Linked DNA regions of Homo sapiens: region 2 is linked to region 1. A link means that fine-mapping ties the variant in region 1 to the expression of a gene that starts in the linked region. Tissue or cell type: sun-exposed skin. Region 1 holds a variant in brackets; the other region holds the start of a gene. All regions are shown on one strand. Distances are from middle to middle.

Region 1 (8,103 bases):
GGTGAAGCCTCGTCTCTACAGAAAAATTTAAAAATTAGCTGGGCATGGTGGAACGTGCCTGTGGTCCCAGCTCTCAGGAGGCTGAGGTGGGAGGATCACCTGAGCCCAGGGAGGTTGAGGCTGCGGTGAGCTCTGATCATGCTATTATTGCACTCCAGCCTGGGTGACAGAGTAAGATCCTGTCTCAAAAAAAAAAAAAAAAAAGAAAAAGAAAAAGAAAAAAGAAAAAAAGAAGAAAAAGAAATCTTTGTGGATGGATTATGAAAGGTGTTAACTGACCCCATCTGCTCCTTCTCATACTTCCCACATCAGAACCATTGTGTGCCCCCTCCCGACCTTCCCAAGCCTCCAAACCAAATGAGAGTCCCATTGACCAGCCTAAAGGGTTGCACCCCTAGCACCAGCCATACTTCCTGAGAAGGCAGAGAGTAGAAGAGAAAGAGGATGTACTGGGCTAAGGGGCTGTTGGGCATAGGAAGACTCCTCAACGAGAAAGGGTAGGAGACAGAGGCTTGGGCATTACCCTTCCCATCAATTAAAAAAAACTCCAAACAGCCACAGCACTCCCACACCCACATGGTGTTTGGATCAGATTGTCTGGATTGCTAGTGGATTGTGCAAGCAAAGGGATGCAGGGCAGGCAGGAGAGACCCTCATTTTTATAAGCCCCCGGGAGAGCTGGCATCTTGCATGCCACACCTGCCAAAGGGCTGCGCTGGGGGAAGAAAGCAGTGATGTAAAGATGCAGGGTGGGTGGGCTGGATAGGGAGGTGGGGGTGTGGGAGGGGATGGGGCCCAAGGACCAGAAAAGTCCAGGGAATCATTTCTAATTCCACTGCCTCAGGAGACAAGTCTTTCAACTTCCTCCCTTCCTTCACAGCTGCTCCCCCACTTCACAGCCCCTGTCATGTAGAATCCCCATTAGCCCTGACATCCAGCAACTCCACCTGGGAGTGGGGGCAGCAGCAGAGTGGGGGACAGAGGATTAGGGGATCCACACAGCCCTTCCCTCAGGAGGAAGGGCTGGGCTGGAAGGGGCCTAGAGGCAGCTGCAAAGTGCTTGCTGCAGGTCCTCTGGGAGTCAGATGCCTTCCCCGGCCAGGCCGCTCGGGTGACCGGGGTGAGATATCGAAGCTCAACATCTTAGCACATCAGCCTCAGCTGTGAGTTGCCTTCCTGGGCTTCTCGCAGCCTCCAGGCCTGGCTCTGGGTGAACACATCGCTTCATGGCCTGGACCCATCATTGCAGATAATCCACTTAGGCGGCTGTTTCTGTTCAGCATTGGACTATGCCCATCCTTCAAGGCCTTGCCCTTGACTGACTACTGCAGCCCACTGGGTCCTCTCCCCACTGCTGTCCCACGGTACTACAGACTGGGACCCTAGAGGGATGTCTCTCCCGTCAGATGTCTTAGAGCTCTGCCTCTCCCCTGTTAAGCCAGCCTGATCTTTTCTTCTAGGCTGTTTGGTTTGGACACAGCCAAAATGGGGGCTGAGCAACAGAGGTGTCCTTGACTGCAAGCCGGTCCTTTTGTTTGTACACTGCCGCCCCTACCTCCGTGTGTCCCTTGCATGGAGTGGCAAAACGAGGCCCAGAAAGTGGGCTAGTTTCTGGCAGGACGCACCACAGTTCAAGACGGTATCCTGCAGCGCTCAGCGATTATGGCCCACTCTGCAACCCTGGGATGTTCGCCTTGACCCTGGAGAGGGAAGCGGGTGCATTGCCACAGGCAGAGGGCTGGATCAGAAGACCCAAAGGGCGCTCCTTCCATGGGCCTTCCAGAGACTTTGCAGACACTCCCTCCAGCTGCCCGGCCCACCCCCTCTCCATTGTCTTAGCTGACACTTTGGGTTGCGCTCCGGACTTCTGGCTGGTGGAGCGCCTCCCTGCCCCCACCTCCCTACCGCCTTTTCTGTCAAAGGCTCAGCGGGGCCCCCGCGCGGCCCACTAATTAGCGCTGGCCCAGCCACACCTGCAGCGTCCTGGGAGAGGGCTGAGACAGGCGCCCATGCGTGAGGCCGGGATGGGGGCAAGCCCGGGGCAGCAGGTCCCGCACCTCCTCCCTGATCCCGCTGGAGGGATTAGAGGAGGGAGGGCAGGGGCTGGAAGCTGAGGGCTCTTCAGCCCAAGACCCTGCTTGTTGGGACTCTCTCCGTGTAACTCCTTCCCCTTCCAGTTGAGGAAACCGAGGTGGGGAGGCAAAGACAGTGGTTTGGCACTCAAGCTCCTGGGGGATCTTCAGGGATCTGACCTGGCTTCATCCCTCCAACCAGGCTGCCAGCTTGTCCTTCCTGACCTTTGCTCCTGCTGGGCACCTCCACCCTCCAAGCCCAACATCTTCTGCCCAAACAGATGAAGCTCCAGGATACCTCCTCCCCAGCCGGGAGCCAAGGCCCTTGGGGAACCATTCTAGCTCCACGGGAGGCACAGGGGACCCTTCTTTCCCAAGGTAGATGTTGGCAGGGTCAGCTCCCCAGGCTGCCTCCACTCTTTCTAGTGTCTCCTCCTTTCTAGCCAATCCTCTCTCAGCCACTGCAGTGAAATCAGCCTTAAAGTCTCAGGCCTCTTTAGCCCACCTCCCCCGGGGGAGGGGAATGCCTAAGTCACCTGGACTCACCTCCACCGTGGCCCAGCGAGCACTGGGGCCTCCCTGCCCTTAGGCACCCCCAGCTTTTCTCCCAGAGTTCTCCTGTCTGGGAGTGCTTACAGACCCAGGGTAGGAGGCCAGGCTGGGGAGGAGACAGGTGGAGAGGGACAGAGTGGCCCTGCCTCTGGCGTACTGAGGGTGCAGCCCTAAATTTCCAAACCCTTGCCAGCCCTGCGCCTGTCCACAGGCCCCAGGGAGAACCACCCCCCTCATCCCTCCCACTCCCAGAGCCTGAGGAGGAAGTGAGTGAGGCGGGGAGGGGATTGGGAGACACTGTGGATGAAGGGACACACCAAGGAATCCCAGCCTTCCCCTGGGGGTGGGAGGGCATCTGGGCTGGGCTGAGGCTGGCCCGGTGCATCCTGTGAGGATACTTGATAGGCAGCAAAAGTAAAGGCGCTGGCAGGGAGCAGAGCCTAGAGGGGCTCCCCTGCACTGACCTTTGCTCTGGGTCCACTGTTGGGTTGTTTGGTGTGAACACATTCTCCTGGGTGGAGGCCATATAGAGCCAGCATCGAGGGAAGCATGCAAACATGGGGGGCGGGCACAGCCATCCCTGGGTTCCAGCCTGGGTCAGAACCTCCAGGGCATGTTGACTATACATAAGGGGCTGGGTGGGAAAGAGCTGGCTGGAGGTGGCTCCAGGCTTGGGCCAACCTGCCCAGAGGAGTGTGGGGTTAGATGGTACCTATAGGGTCCCTGGGTATCAGGAGGTGGGGGCACTTTCCAGGAAGAAGGAAAGCAGAGCATGAAGGTGCAGATCACACACCACACTCAGCACCCAGCAACTCCCGGGTGCCTGCAGGGAGGAGGGACGGCCTGCAGGGAGTGGGGCTCATCACAACAGACTGGCAAGAGTCACACATGCCAGCTCAGGGCTCCAGGCCTGGGCTCTGGACCCAAGGGGGCCCAGTCACTGCATATTTCTGGGCCTTGGTGACCCTAGCTTTGGCCTAGGGAGTATCCGGACCTCCTATCCTCCCCCGAGCTCCATGGGGCAGGGCCTACAGGCCTTGCTTGAGAAATCTGACCCACCCCATTCTCACCATTTCTTCTTAGCTGGAATGTGCTCCACCCTCAGCACCTGCCTCAGGCCTCAGGAGGTGCCCCACACCCCAGGGCTCTCCTCCCATGCGCCCCCGGGCCCCTTTACTCTGATTTCACCCCTCAGCTACCCTCTGAGTTCACTCCACCTCCTCTCCTGGCCTGGATAGCAACAGAGGAACAGAGGGAGGTGGGGTGGCTGCATCAGGCTCACTTCCCCTCACACCACACTCCCTGTTAGGAGCCTCTGGCTCTGCATAGCTGTGGCGGGCCATGCTGGTTTACTCCAGTGAGCCTCTGGCTCTGCATAGCTGTGGCGGGCCATGCTGGTTTACTCCAGTGAGCCTCTGGCTTTGCATAGCTGTGGCGGGCCATGCTGGTTTACTCCAGTGAGCAGGGCGGCCTGAGAATTCACCAGGCCAGGGAGAGTGACCTTGGACAAGGAGATGCAGGGGTTCCCTTTGGTCCTCTGGACCTTGCCCCAGACATCTGGGCCACCCTTGCAGGACAGGCACAGGAGCCACAAGTAGGGCCTCCCCTCTGAAATTGACAAGGGTACATCCCAGCACCTGTAGACACTTCCATGCCCCACACCTGGATACGCATTCTTATCCCAGCTGTACACACACTCACCATACTCAGATATGTGACACTGCCAGAACACATACACAAGTGTTCTCTCCATGAGTGCACATGCACACACGTACATCACACCTAAGTGCACACACACACACCTTTGCCCTGAGTGCATAAGCATGCAGTCACACATTTCCTTACCCCAAGTGAAGGTGGGAGCACCCCCTAG[G/A]CACATGCTCCTACCTGCTTATGCACACAGGCACCCTCCTCAGAACACACATACGACATGCACCCATTGATGTGACGCACACGGGGCACCTATTTCCTCAGGCTGAGAGCGCTGACACTCTGCACTGCCACACACACCACTCCAAGTACACTTAATCACACCCCGCCTGACTCTGAGTGCTTGGGTGCACACTCCTCACACAGGCACGTTTACACAAGAGCAGGTGCACAGCACACCCCACTCTCAGGGGCAACTGGAAGCTATCTCTGGACTTCGGGTGTTACAGCAGGATTGGGCTGATGACAGCTACTCCCCAGCCCTCTCTTCTGGGGTGGGCTGGGCTGGGGACCTGCAACCCTTCACCTGCAGAGGTGGCCTCTGGTCCAGGTGGCCCCACTGCGTCACTCTGCTGGACAGAGAGCCCTCCAGGTCTCCCCAGGTCTTGGGTCCTCCTCCTTTTCTGAGGCAAGAAGCGGGGCCCGGGAACCTGGCAGCCCACCCCAGCTCCCCACCCTGACCTCACCCGTCACGGTGGAGGGGCTACTCACTGACACGGGGGTGGGTGATGTAGTTTCGGGTGACCGCCTGCATGTGTTCTCGGGCTGCACCTAGGTTGCAGCTACTGCCGGGGAGCCCCCCAGGCCTGCTGTCTATCTCCATGGCCATGGAGCAGTCCCCAGCTGGGAGCCCAGTGTCTGAGCCTGCTGCTGGTGGCAGCTCTGAGACTTCAGGTCCAGCTGGAGCTGGAGAGAGCTGCTCAGCCTTCCCCTGCAGCCACCCCTCCCCTCTCCCCCTCCCCTCCCTCTCCTCCTCCTCTAGGTTGACAGTAAACAAGGAAGCCTGGGGCTCTGGCTCCCAAGCTTTCCCCACACCAAGCTGTGCAGGTCTGGGAGGGGCCCCCGTCACCTGAGAGCTGGAGGATGTGGAGGGAGAAGGGAAGAGGGGAGGGCTGGCTTTTTCCTTCTTCTGTGCTAGGCGGTTCCTCCCCGCCAACCCCAAACTGTATGAATTCAATTCCTCCCCTGGACCATCAGGTGCTGTCAACATTCCCACACTCGTCCCTCACCACAGCTCTTTCTGGTCTCTCCACACCCAACTTCTGGCAGGCTGCCCTTTCTTCACTGTTCTCGCAACCTGACCTTACCCTGCACTCCTTGCCCTGACTATACCTGGATACTTCTGCCCCCTGACAATTCCATCGTCATCTTTTTGAACATCTGTAGAGAATTATTTCCTGGTCAGCCTCAGTGCCATCTCCTACATGAAGCCTTCTCTGGATTCTCTAGCAGCCAAGATTTACTACACATCTAGCCTCTTTCCTAAGTCATGCCCTTTAGGAGAGGCCTCTCTTGTCCCTGCCACTGGGCTGTGAGCCCCCAAAAGCTGAGCCTGTGTCTCAACCCACAGACCTGGGTCTCCTGAAGCCTGTCTGTCTCATACTATTGAGAGTTCTTGAGAATGAGGGCTGGTCTCTCTCCATCTGATCATAGAACCGTGTCTCATCTTCTCACATTCACCTCCAGATTTCTATACAGCAGGCCTGCCCTGACCTTTCCAGCCCAGGTCAGAAAGTAAAATGGAGGTCCCTGTATTGTATAACTAAATACCTGGAGTTATAAATCAAACTATGTGCACAGCCTGGCCTGGGTTCCACCCAAGACCTCACCACTGCTTCCCAAGAACTCTCTCTTCATGTCATGAAACTAAGAGTTGTGGTTTCTCCTGGTGAGTGGAGTGTGGTACAGTTCCTCTGGGCAAGGCAGGGTGGACCCTGGGTGGTAGCTGGACCTGCCCAACCCAAGGTCTTCTAGTCACCCCCATGCCTCATTCTAGGCTCAGGATTTCTGCATTTCTAAGCTCCTCCCCAAACCATACCACTGAGCAGAGGGAACGGCAGAAGTACATTTGCCTAGGGATCACTGTCCCCAAGCACCCACTCCAGGTGACTCAGGACAGCCAATTTGAAACCAAAGCAGCAGCTACTATGTTTCTCAGAGCAGACTGGAGGAGACTGTGCTTGTTATTTCTCTTCACAGAGTCAAAATCTTACCCCGCATCCTCCCTCCTGAGGACCCATTTCAGGTCTCTGGTTCCTAATGCCCATCCTTTCAAAGAACTCTCCTGTGGAGGGCGGGGGTGGGTGTGACCATCAAGGAGCAGCATGAGGAAGATCTCTGTGGTGATGGAACAGGTCTGCATCTGGATTGCAGCAGTGAGTCCATGAATCTATAAAATGACATGGCACTATGCACACACACGGTACCAATGCCAATTTCCTAGTTTTGATATTGTACTATAGTTAGGGAAGATGAAGCCTATCTGTCTCATACTATTGAGTTCCTGCCAATGGAAGGAACTTCTCTGTCCTATCTCTGCAGCTTCCTGTAAATCTATAATTACTGCAAAATAAAAAGTTAAATAAAAGAGTCTTGAGCAAGACTCTTATTTAACTTTAAAAAAATTTATATTGTTTGAGCAATATGAAATATATATAATATGTATGTGTGTGTGTGTGTGTGTGTGTGTGTATATATATATATATATTTTTTTTTTTTTTTGAGTCAGAGTCTCCCTCTGTTGTCAGGCTGAAATGCAGAGGCATGATCTTGGCTCACTGCAGCCTCCACCTCCTGGGTTCAAGCGATTCTCCTGCTTCAGCCTCCTGAGTGGCTGAGATTACAGGCGCCCGCCACCATGCCCAGCTAATTTTTGTATTTTGAGTAGAGATGGAGTTTCCCCATGTTGGCCAGGCTGTGTATAGATATTTTAAAGGGTTTCATGTTGCAGTTTGTGATGGGTAGGCCGTCTCTAAACATCTGGACTCTTGCTTGTGTTTAGCTTTGATGCTCTCTCTCCCTCTCTCTCAACCTGGTCTCCCCTTTCACCATTCACCCTCTTCAAGGTGACAATGTTTCCCTCTCTCAAGTATTTTTATGTTTGAAAGAGAGCTTGTAAAGGGCAACATTTAACCAAAGAATTCGTGTTGGTGCCATGGGCTTCTATTGAGTGGGAATCAGGTGCCTGCTGACCGACACATGTGAGTCCCCTGACCCCCAGAATCCCAGTTTCTGCCCTCTCCCATCTGAGGTCCCTCTGACTCTAAGCCCATTTTCCCTTCCAGTGACAAGAGGGATAGAAGGGATTGAGGGGTAAGTAGTTGTGCTGTGGGCACCATTTCCCTTCTTGTCATTGTTTTCCTTTTATTTCAGTGAGAGACACACACACTCACACTGCACTCACGCACACAAGCTGCGGGACCAAGGCCATTTGGTCACGAGTCTCTGAGCTGGGGGGCAGGTGGGGAAGAGTGTGTGGCTGCAGCCCCTCCTCTCCGGGGCCTGCTCAGTGCTGTCCGCTGGGGCACAGGAGACTGGGAAGGTGCTGTGCTCGGGACTCAGTGTCACAGGGTGGGAGTCTTAAGTGTTAGCTTTCTTGCAGCTGCTGGCGCTGCCCACTTTCCGTTCTAGCCAGCTGTATGGCTCGAAGGCCGAGGAACCCAGTTCGTAGCCGGCAGGCAGATCCAGGAGCGGGGCCGAGGAAAAGCAGACAGCTGGCAGAGGGGGCGGCAGTGGGGGGGACGCTGAGGCCGAGGACAGCGGGTTGAGG
Region 2 (8,103 bases), 120 kb after region 1:
AATGCCCATTTGTTTTTGTCTGGCCAGAGAACAGAAAGCCTCTCAGTGAAGACATAGCAACCCCCTGGTTTTTCTGCCCTGCTGGTAGATGGTGTTCCTGTGGGAAATAGAAGAGCTAGGGCCCGGAGGGTGGGTGGGGAGGCCAGGGAAGAACTATGCCCCTCTCCTGGCCCAGACTCTGACCTTCCAGTTGGGCAAGGGATCCGTAGAGTTCTGCCTTCGAGGTTCCCTCAGCTCTCAGGCCTCAGGAGGAAATAGGTCCTGAGTAGGTCCAGCCTGGGCCCTTCCTGTGTATGGGGAAACAGAAACCAAGACAAGCCCTTTCTTTTCAGCCACCAGCCCTGGGTGTCTGATGGGCCTCTAGGGAGGCACCTCCAGCAGCTTCCATCCCATTCTATGTGGCGGTGAAGGAGTCTGGCAGACACCACTGGGATCTCAGGCAGCGCTGTTGATAGTCCAGAAATAGGTGCCTTCACCCTTCATTCCTGCTGTGCCCTCCTCTCTAAGGTCAGTTTTCAACAAACAGGAGGTAAAAGGCAGCAAATGGTGGCTCTGCACTCTACACATTGGGCCCCTAACACTGCACAGTTCAACACACACACACACACACACAAACACACACACCCCCACCATCATGAACTGGGTGTGGGCAACCGCTCCCTTCCTGTCTGCAGATCCCCTACCCACGGGGCGACTTGCTTGCCGGGTTGACATCAGCCACGCATGGCACAGGCTCCTCCTGGGCCAAAGCTGTTCTCCTGGCCCGGCCTCAGAGGAGGCACGTTCCGTGTGGCTTCTCCACCTTTGTGGTTGGTCTGCAGTGTTGTTAGTTGGCAGCTGGGGACCTATAAGAGGCTGACCCCAGGATCTGTGCAAAAGACATGAGAATGGGACATAGGAACAGAGGGTGAAAGTAGCAAAGAAACAACACAACATGGATGGAACAAGCCATTTGCAAGGTTGTGAGTTTGTTTAAGAGTTGCTATGATGGTGTAATATGTAATTAGACTTTCCAAAGTGAAAGAAAATGTGATTTATTTCAAAAAGATTGTGACCGTTTGAAGTAATGGAGACAAGAAGGAACCAAAGAACAGGAATCTGCTGGTAACCCCAGCACTGGCTTTTAGAGGGGTTCCTTGACCAGCCATGGGAATATTGGTTCTGTTCAGCTGGTAACCCCTGTGGCAGGGACAGGGACATCACGTTTGCACAGCTCCATGGCACTGTCCACTGGGATGCCTCATGCCTTCTCTTCTAATGCTAGGCCCACCCAGCAGCAGGAACCCCTGAAGCAGTATCTGTTCCTCCTGGAAGGGATAGGGCTCATTGAAAGCCACACATTGGCCCCAGCCTGCTCCATCAGATTCTTTGGAGTTAGTCTTGAGAACCTGGTCACCTCAGGAGGCATGGATCCAATCAGCTAAAGTTGGGGCCTGCTTGGTATTTTCTGACACCACTTCTGACACCAAATGTGTGCTTTTTCCTGACACCAGCCGATTCTCTGACACCCGCTGGGCATCCAACAATTCAAACAGATTCTAACACTAACTTCCAGAGTTAGCACAGATCTCACAGGGTAAGGCCTCAGTCCCACAAGACTGCCCCCCTTCAGATGCTAGCTACAAGTGAGGTAGTGACCCCACTTCTGCCTGGTCAACTACAAATTTGGGGGTTCTGGCTAGGCAAGGTGGCTCATGCCTGTAGTCCCAGCACTTTGGGAGGCTGAGGTGGGAGGATCACTTGAAGCCAGGAGTTCCAGACCAGCCTGGGGTATAAAAAGAGATCCCATCTCTACAAAAAAATAAAAATAAAAAATTAGCCAGGTATGTTGGCACACACCTGTAGTCCCAGTTATGCTGGGGTTATGCTGGATGTGACAGAGGCTGGGATGTTGGGGCTGAGAACTGAGGATCACTTGTGTCCAGGAGTTCAAGGCTGCATTGACTTATGATCGTACCACTGCACTCCAGCCTGAGTGACAGAGGGAGACCCTGTCTCAAACAAAAAATTAGGGGGTTTCTGCAACAACCTCTCAGTTTTCATAATTCACTAGAACAATTCACAGAACTCAGAAAAACACTGTACTTCCTATTCTTTTATTGTAAAGGACAAAAACAGCCTGATGAAGAGGTACACAGGGCAAGGCCCAGTGGGGTCCCAAGTGCAGGAGACTCTGTCTCTGTGGAGTCAGGGCATGACACCCTCCTGGCATGTGGATCACCAATCCCTAAGCTCCTTGAATCTCATTTTTTAAGAGTCGTTATAGCCCAGACCCCAGGCCATCTCCCATACCTGGAGGTCTGGGAGTAGGGAATGGGAGTGGGTGGCTGAAAGTCCCAGTCTTCCAAAGTCTAATCCCATGTTTGGTCTTTCTGGGACCAGCCTCCAGCCTGAAATTATCTAAGGGTCCACCCTGTGTCACCTCATTAGCATAAACCCAAGTGTAGTCCTAAGGGGCTTATTATGAATAACAAAAAACACTCCTGTCACCCAGGAAACTCTAAGCGTTTTAGGAGTTCTGTGTCAGGAACTGAGATGAAGACCAGATATATTTTTTACAGAGTTGTCCCTTGGTATCTGCAGGGGATTTGTTTCAGGACTCCCATGGGTACCAAAGTCCACAGATGCTCAAGTCCCTTGTACAAAATCATGTAGTATTTTTATATAACCTCCGCACATCCTCCTGTATACTATAATTCAGTTGTGAGTCCCCAAGTGGCTGGTCACCCCGCTTCCTCCTTTGACCTGCAAATATCGGCCGCACTGACCTGGCCCCTCTTTTACCTGACTCCTTTTACTTAAGAGGTTCTGAGGCTAGAATTAAAGGTCAGCCATAGTCATAAGGATGTTTTCTGTGCAAAGCTGAGACCCCCTTCCTAGGTGCCAGTCCCAGCCCCCAGAGAAGAAGAGGTGTGTTTGGGGTTATGCTGGATGCGGCAGAGGCTGGGATGATGGGGCTGAGAACTGACGGGAAGGTGCTAATGGGAAGAGGAAGAAAATAGGGCAGATGGGTATCTGGGAGCCTCTAGGGGAGGGGCCCACTGGGGCGGGTTTCTGCAGAGTCAGGCAGGGAGGGAGGAAGAGCTGGGAGGGTGGTCAGGAGCATATAAGTGTGGGTGTCTCAGCTTTGCTTCCACTGCCATTGGTCCACGGGACGGCCCTTCCAGGAGCCAGTGGCTGGGAGCAGTGCTGGAGGATCAAGGAAGCAGAGATGGACGGTGAGGCAGTCCGCTTCTGCACAGATAACCAGTGTGTCTCCCTGCACCCCCAAGGTGAGAAAACTGGGGCCCCAGCTCTTGCCCAGTGAGGGAGTAGCCTGCCTGTCCTTTGGCCCTCTGCCATAAGGCAGCTTATTGCTGTCTTATTGCTCTCCCCAGACCCTTGTCCTTGGGGATGCAGACCTGGCAAGAGAAAGGGGATGAACTTTGAATTCAGATGGTCCTGGCTTGGAATCCCGGCTCTGCACACTGAGCTGGTCCTGTGAGGCCTCCCTCCCTTCCTTTCTTCTTTCATTCAAACTACACTTTTGTTGCTCTGTGCTCTGTGCCAGGTTCTGTGCCCTGTGCACCACCAAAGCCTCCTTGAGATTTGGAGATCGGTGGTCTCGGTCTCAGAGCTCCTCAGCTCTGTGTTGCTACCATATCCACATCTAGCTCTGGTGAACAGCCCAAAGTGTTTTGTCTTCCTTCTCCATAACCACCTGCATGATAAGCATGGCAGGAGTTATCATCCCCATTAGACAACCCAGGAAACAGAATCAGAGAGGCTGTGTCTCAGCCTGCACAGCACCCTCTTACCTTGCACAGCACCCTCTCACCTTGGACACTGCCTTCTCCCCTGCAGAGGTGGACTCTGTGGCAATGGCTCCTGCAGCCCCCAAGATACCGAGGCTCGTTCAGGCTACCCCGGCATTTATGGCTGTGACCTTGGTCTTCTCTCTTGTGACTCTCTTTGTAGTGGGTAAGCCCCCAGGTGACCCAAATCTCACTAACTTTCTCTCCTTTCAGCACAAAGTCCCCAGGGGCCCCAGATGCACACTCTCTGGGCCTCTCTGCTCCCAGAAAGATCATTCCACCTCCAGCTCCAGGCCCAAGCCACAGCTTCCCTGGGAACAGATAAAGGCCACTGTCCAAGGGGGAGCCTCCCAAGAACTGAGGTTCATGAGGGAAACCCTGGGAGGGTCTTTGCTGCTATCTCCCCGGTTCTGGAACTCTACCTCTGTGTGGGACAGCGTATCCTCCCAGGCTCAGGGCTGGGGATTTGCTGACCTGGAAAAATGGAATGTCTCAGTTCAACAGCAGACAAGACCTGTTCCGAAGCCTGTGCAAGCCGTAATTCTGGGAGACAACATTACTGGGCATTTACCTTTTGAACCCAACAGTGAGTAGCCACAGTGGGGGTGGGGTGCAGAGGGAACTGGGGCCTTCAGATGCTCAGACCCTAGGATGAGCTTCTCTCCTGGTACCCTCTGACCACTGAATGGGCTCCACCATCCTCACAGAAAGAGATAATTTTTTAAAAACACAGTTTTATTGAGGTCTAATGGTGTATATATTTAAAGCATACAATCTGTTAAGTTTTGACATATGTGTGTGCCCCTGAAACCATCACCACAATCATCATCACATAGTCATCCTCCTCACCCCAAAGTTTCCTTGTGGCTCTTTGTAATTCCTTCCTCTCCCTTCCTCTCCTCATCCCTGGGCAGCCACAGATCTACTTGCTGTAACTATAGATTAGTTTGCTTTTTCTAGAGTTTTATAGATAAGAGATCATAGAGTATGTACTCTTTGTTCTTTGCTAGTCATGTGATTTGCAAATATTTTTCTCTCAGTCTGTGACTTGTCTTGTCATTCTCCTAACAAGATTTTAATTTTGATAGTCTAATTTATCATTTTATTTCTGTTATGGATTATTCTCATGATCTCGTATGTGAGAAATCTGCCTAATCCAAGGCTACAAAGATGTTCTCCTTTGTTTCTGGAAATTGTACAGTTTTTAGTTTTAGTTTTTGTTTTTGTTTTTTGACGGAGTCTCGCTCTGTCACCCAGGCTGGAGTGCAGTGGCGTGATCTCGGCTCACTGCAAGCTCTGCCTCCCAGGTTCATGCCATTCTCCTGCCTCAGCCTCTGGAGTAGCTAGGACTACAGGCGCCCGCCACCACGCCTGGCTAATTTTTTGTATTTTTAGTAGAGACGGAGTTTCACCGTGTTAGCCAGGATGGTCTCGATCCCCTGACCTCGTGATCTGCCCACCTCAGCCTCCCAAAGTGCTGGGATTACAGGCGTGAGCCACCATGCCCAGCCCGGTTTTTAGTTTTACATTTAGGTCTCTGCCTCATTTGAGTTAATTATTGTATAATGGTGTGAAATTGATTGTTCCAGCACCATTTGTTGAAAAAGTTATCTTTCTCCGTGAATTGCCTTTGCACCTTTGTTGAAATTCGATTGTCCATATGTGTGGGGGTCTACTTCCGTATTCTCCATTCTGTCGCATTGATTTGTTTGTCTATCTTTACAAAGCAGAATCTTTGACTGAACTCCCAGTACCTTGAAAGGTCCCCTCTCTTACCTTAGCACAGTAACTGAGGTCTCACACATCTACATAGGCAGTGCATGAGAAATAGTACATGGATGCTCCAGAAAGGGTCCCTGCCATCTTGGGTTTTTCTCCCTATTCCTGAGGGGAGACTGGAATCAGAAGGGGATCATGGATGTGTGAGATTAGGTCCTAGTTCATGAGGTGAACAAAGGATGCTAGCAGGACCAGAGGTAGATGCATGTGAGGTTGGTGGGAAAGACCTTGCAGATTAAAGGGGCTGTGGGGTCTCCTTCAACGACCCCAGCGCAAGGCCTTTTACTCAGGTTTCCTGTATCCTCAAACTGTTCTGTAGGGACCCTTGCCCTATGTAACACTGGGGGTGCTGGCTCTTTAAAAGGCCATCTCAGCTGAGGTCCAGTGTTAGTTACCTGGAGGGCATGGCATGCCTCTATCATAGCCCTGTTGATTGAACAGGGTACTTCCTCCCAGCACACCTATTTTGTTTTGTTTCTGTTTCTTTCCTTTGTGTTTTCTTCTCCATGGAATTTGCCATCATAAAACTTATGTTTGTGGTGGTTTTTATCAAGTAACAATGGTGAATCAAGAGGCTCTATGCTTGGTGTACAAATATAATGTAGGACTAACCACAGGCTTTATTCATACCTATTTTCTTTCCCATAATGACCCATCTGTGGTGAAATTCCAGTAAAATTAAACTTCAACAGCTCTAAATGATAAAATCAGTTACTTTCAAGTTGAGCAATTATAACGACAAAATAATCCAAGCCTTACCAGCATGACTCCTGGTGGCAGCTGGCTTACAGCAGGCAAGCATTTCAATCCTTCTGACCCCTTCATTTGTGTGTAACAGTGAATTAGATCTTTGTTTCTTGGCCCACATTCTCAGGTGGACCGTCCCCAGGGTCTGGGTGGCTGTGTGACCAGGAGGGTGCTTGGGGGAGCACTGAGGGCTGTGCAGTACCCATTTCCCTTGGAAATGTTAGAAACACTCTGGGTGGCCCATAAAATGCTACCCTACATAATGGGCCTCTTTGGCTGCCTTCTTCACTTCCTCCCTCCAGATCATCACCACTTTGGCAGGGAGGCAGAAATGCGAGAGCTTATCCAGACATTTAAAGGCCACATGGAGAATTCCAGTGCCTGGGTAGTAGAAATCCAGATGTTGAAGTGCAGAGTGGACAATGTCAATTCGCAGCTCCAGGTGCTCGGTGATCATCTGGGAAACACCAATGCTGACATCCAGATGGTAAAAGGAGTTCTAAAGGATGCCACTACATTGAGTTTGCAGACACAGATGTTAAGGAGTTCCCTGGAGGGAACCAATGCTGAGATCCAGAGGCTCAAGGAAGACCTTGAAAAGGCAGATGCTTTAACTTTCCAGACGCTGAATTTCTTAAAAAGCAGTTTAGAAAACACCAGCATTGAGCTCCACGTGCTAAGCAGAGGCTTAGAAAATGCAAACTCTGAAATTCAGATGTTGAATGCCAGTTTGGAAACGGCAAATACCCAGGCTCAGTTAGCCAATAGCAGTTTAAAGAACGCTAATGCTGAGATCTATGTTTTGAGAGGCCATCTAGATAGTGTCAATGACTTGAGGACCCAGAACCAGGTTTTAAGAAATAGTTTGGAAGGAGCCAATGCTGAGATCCAGGGACTAAAGGAAAATTTGCAGAACACAAATGCTTTAAACTCCCAGACCCAGGCCTTTATAAAAAGCAGTTTTGACAACACTAGTGCTGAGATCCAGTTCTTAAGAGGTCATTTGGAAAGAGCTGGTGATGAAATTCACGTGTTAAAAAGGGATTTGAAAATGGTCACAGCCCAGACCCAAAAAGCAAATGGCCGTCTGGACCAGACAGATACTCAGATTCAGGTATTCAAGTCAGAGATGGAAAATGTGAATACCTTAAATGCCCAGATTCAGGTCTTAAATGGTCATATGAAAAATGCCAGCAGAGAGATACAGACCCTAAAACAAGGAATGAAGAATGCTTCAGCCTTAACTTCCCAGACCCAGATGTTAGACAGCAATCTGCAGAAGGCCAGTGCCGAGATCCAGAGGTTAAGAGGGGATCTAGAGAACACCAAAGCTCTAACCATGGAAATCCAGCAGGAGCAGAGTCGCCTGAAGACCCTCCATGTGGTCATTACTTCACAGGAACAGCTACAAAGAACCCAAAGTAAGTGGGAGAGGGGAGTCGCGTTTGGGGAGGGCACAGTCTCTTGAGAGGGTAGAGTCTTCCATCTCATCAGCCTCTTTTTTACTGCAACATGCATCTCCTTGACCAAATCCAGGGAAATGGGCCCAAGGAAACTGGGCAGTTGTAGAGATGGTGTGAGGTGGGAAGTTCCTGCTCTCAAGTTGCTTATAACCTGGTCACGGTGACCAAATGAACACGGGAAACCAACTGTAAATGGTGCACGTGTGTGATAAGGACGGCATGGGCTAGTGGGCCACACAGCCTTATTTCTGACTTCCTGATACCCCAAATGGTATGACCTTGAGCCTGTTACTTACCTTCTCTGAGCTACACTTTTCTCA

Which allele goes with the higher level. Alleles are on the strand shown, and positions count from the first base shown. SD is a standard deviation of normalised expression in the study named.
As copies of A replace G in region 1, the expression in sun-exposed skin of the gene that starts at base 3,136 in region 2 goes down (moderate effect, 0.50 SD a copy in GTEx).

What was found. PIP is the estimated chance that this variant, and not a neighbour inherited with it, causes the effect.
Region 2: it holds the start of CLEC4F, and the variant in region 1 is fine-mapped to the expression of CLEC4F in sun-exposed skin (GTEx, PIP above 0.99). The same link has a PIP of 0.9 or more in unexposed skin.

Annotation. Positions count from the first base shown.
Region 1 is chr2:70,933,015-70,941,117 of GRCh38, reverse strand. It overlaps VAX2 (ventral anterior homeobox 2), which reads right to left. Exons shown (of 3, transcript NM_012476.3): 3 at 7,672-8,103. The coding sequence ends at 7,914. ATP6V1B1 (ATPase H+ transporting V1 subunit B1) reads right to left here and starts at 5,218. Exons shown (of 14, transcript NM_001692.4): 1 at 5,046-5,218. The coding sequence starts at 5,163. RefSeq lists enhancers at 934-1,773, 1,774-2,614. The variant G/A (reference allele first, on the strand shown) is at 4,498.
Region 2 is chr2:70,815,632-70,823,734 of GRCh38, reverse strand. CLEC4F (C-type lectin domain family 4 member F) reads left to right here and starts at 3,136. Exons shown (of 7, transcript NM_173535.3): 1 at 3,136-3,272; 2 at 3,844-3,960; 3 at 4,291-4,380; 4 at 6,623-7,741. The coding sequence starts at 3,212.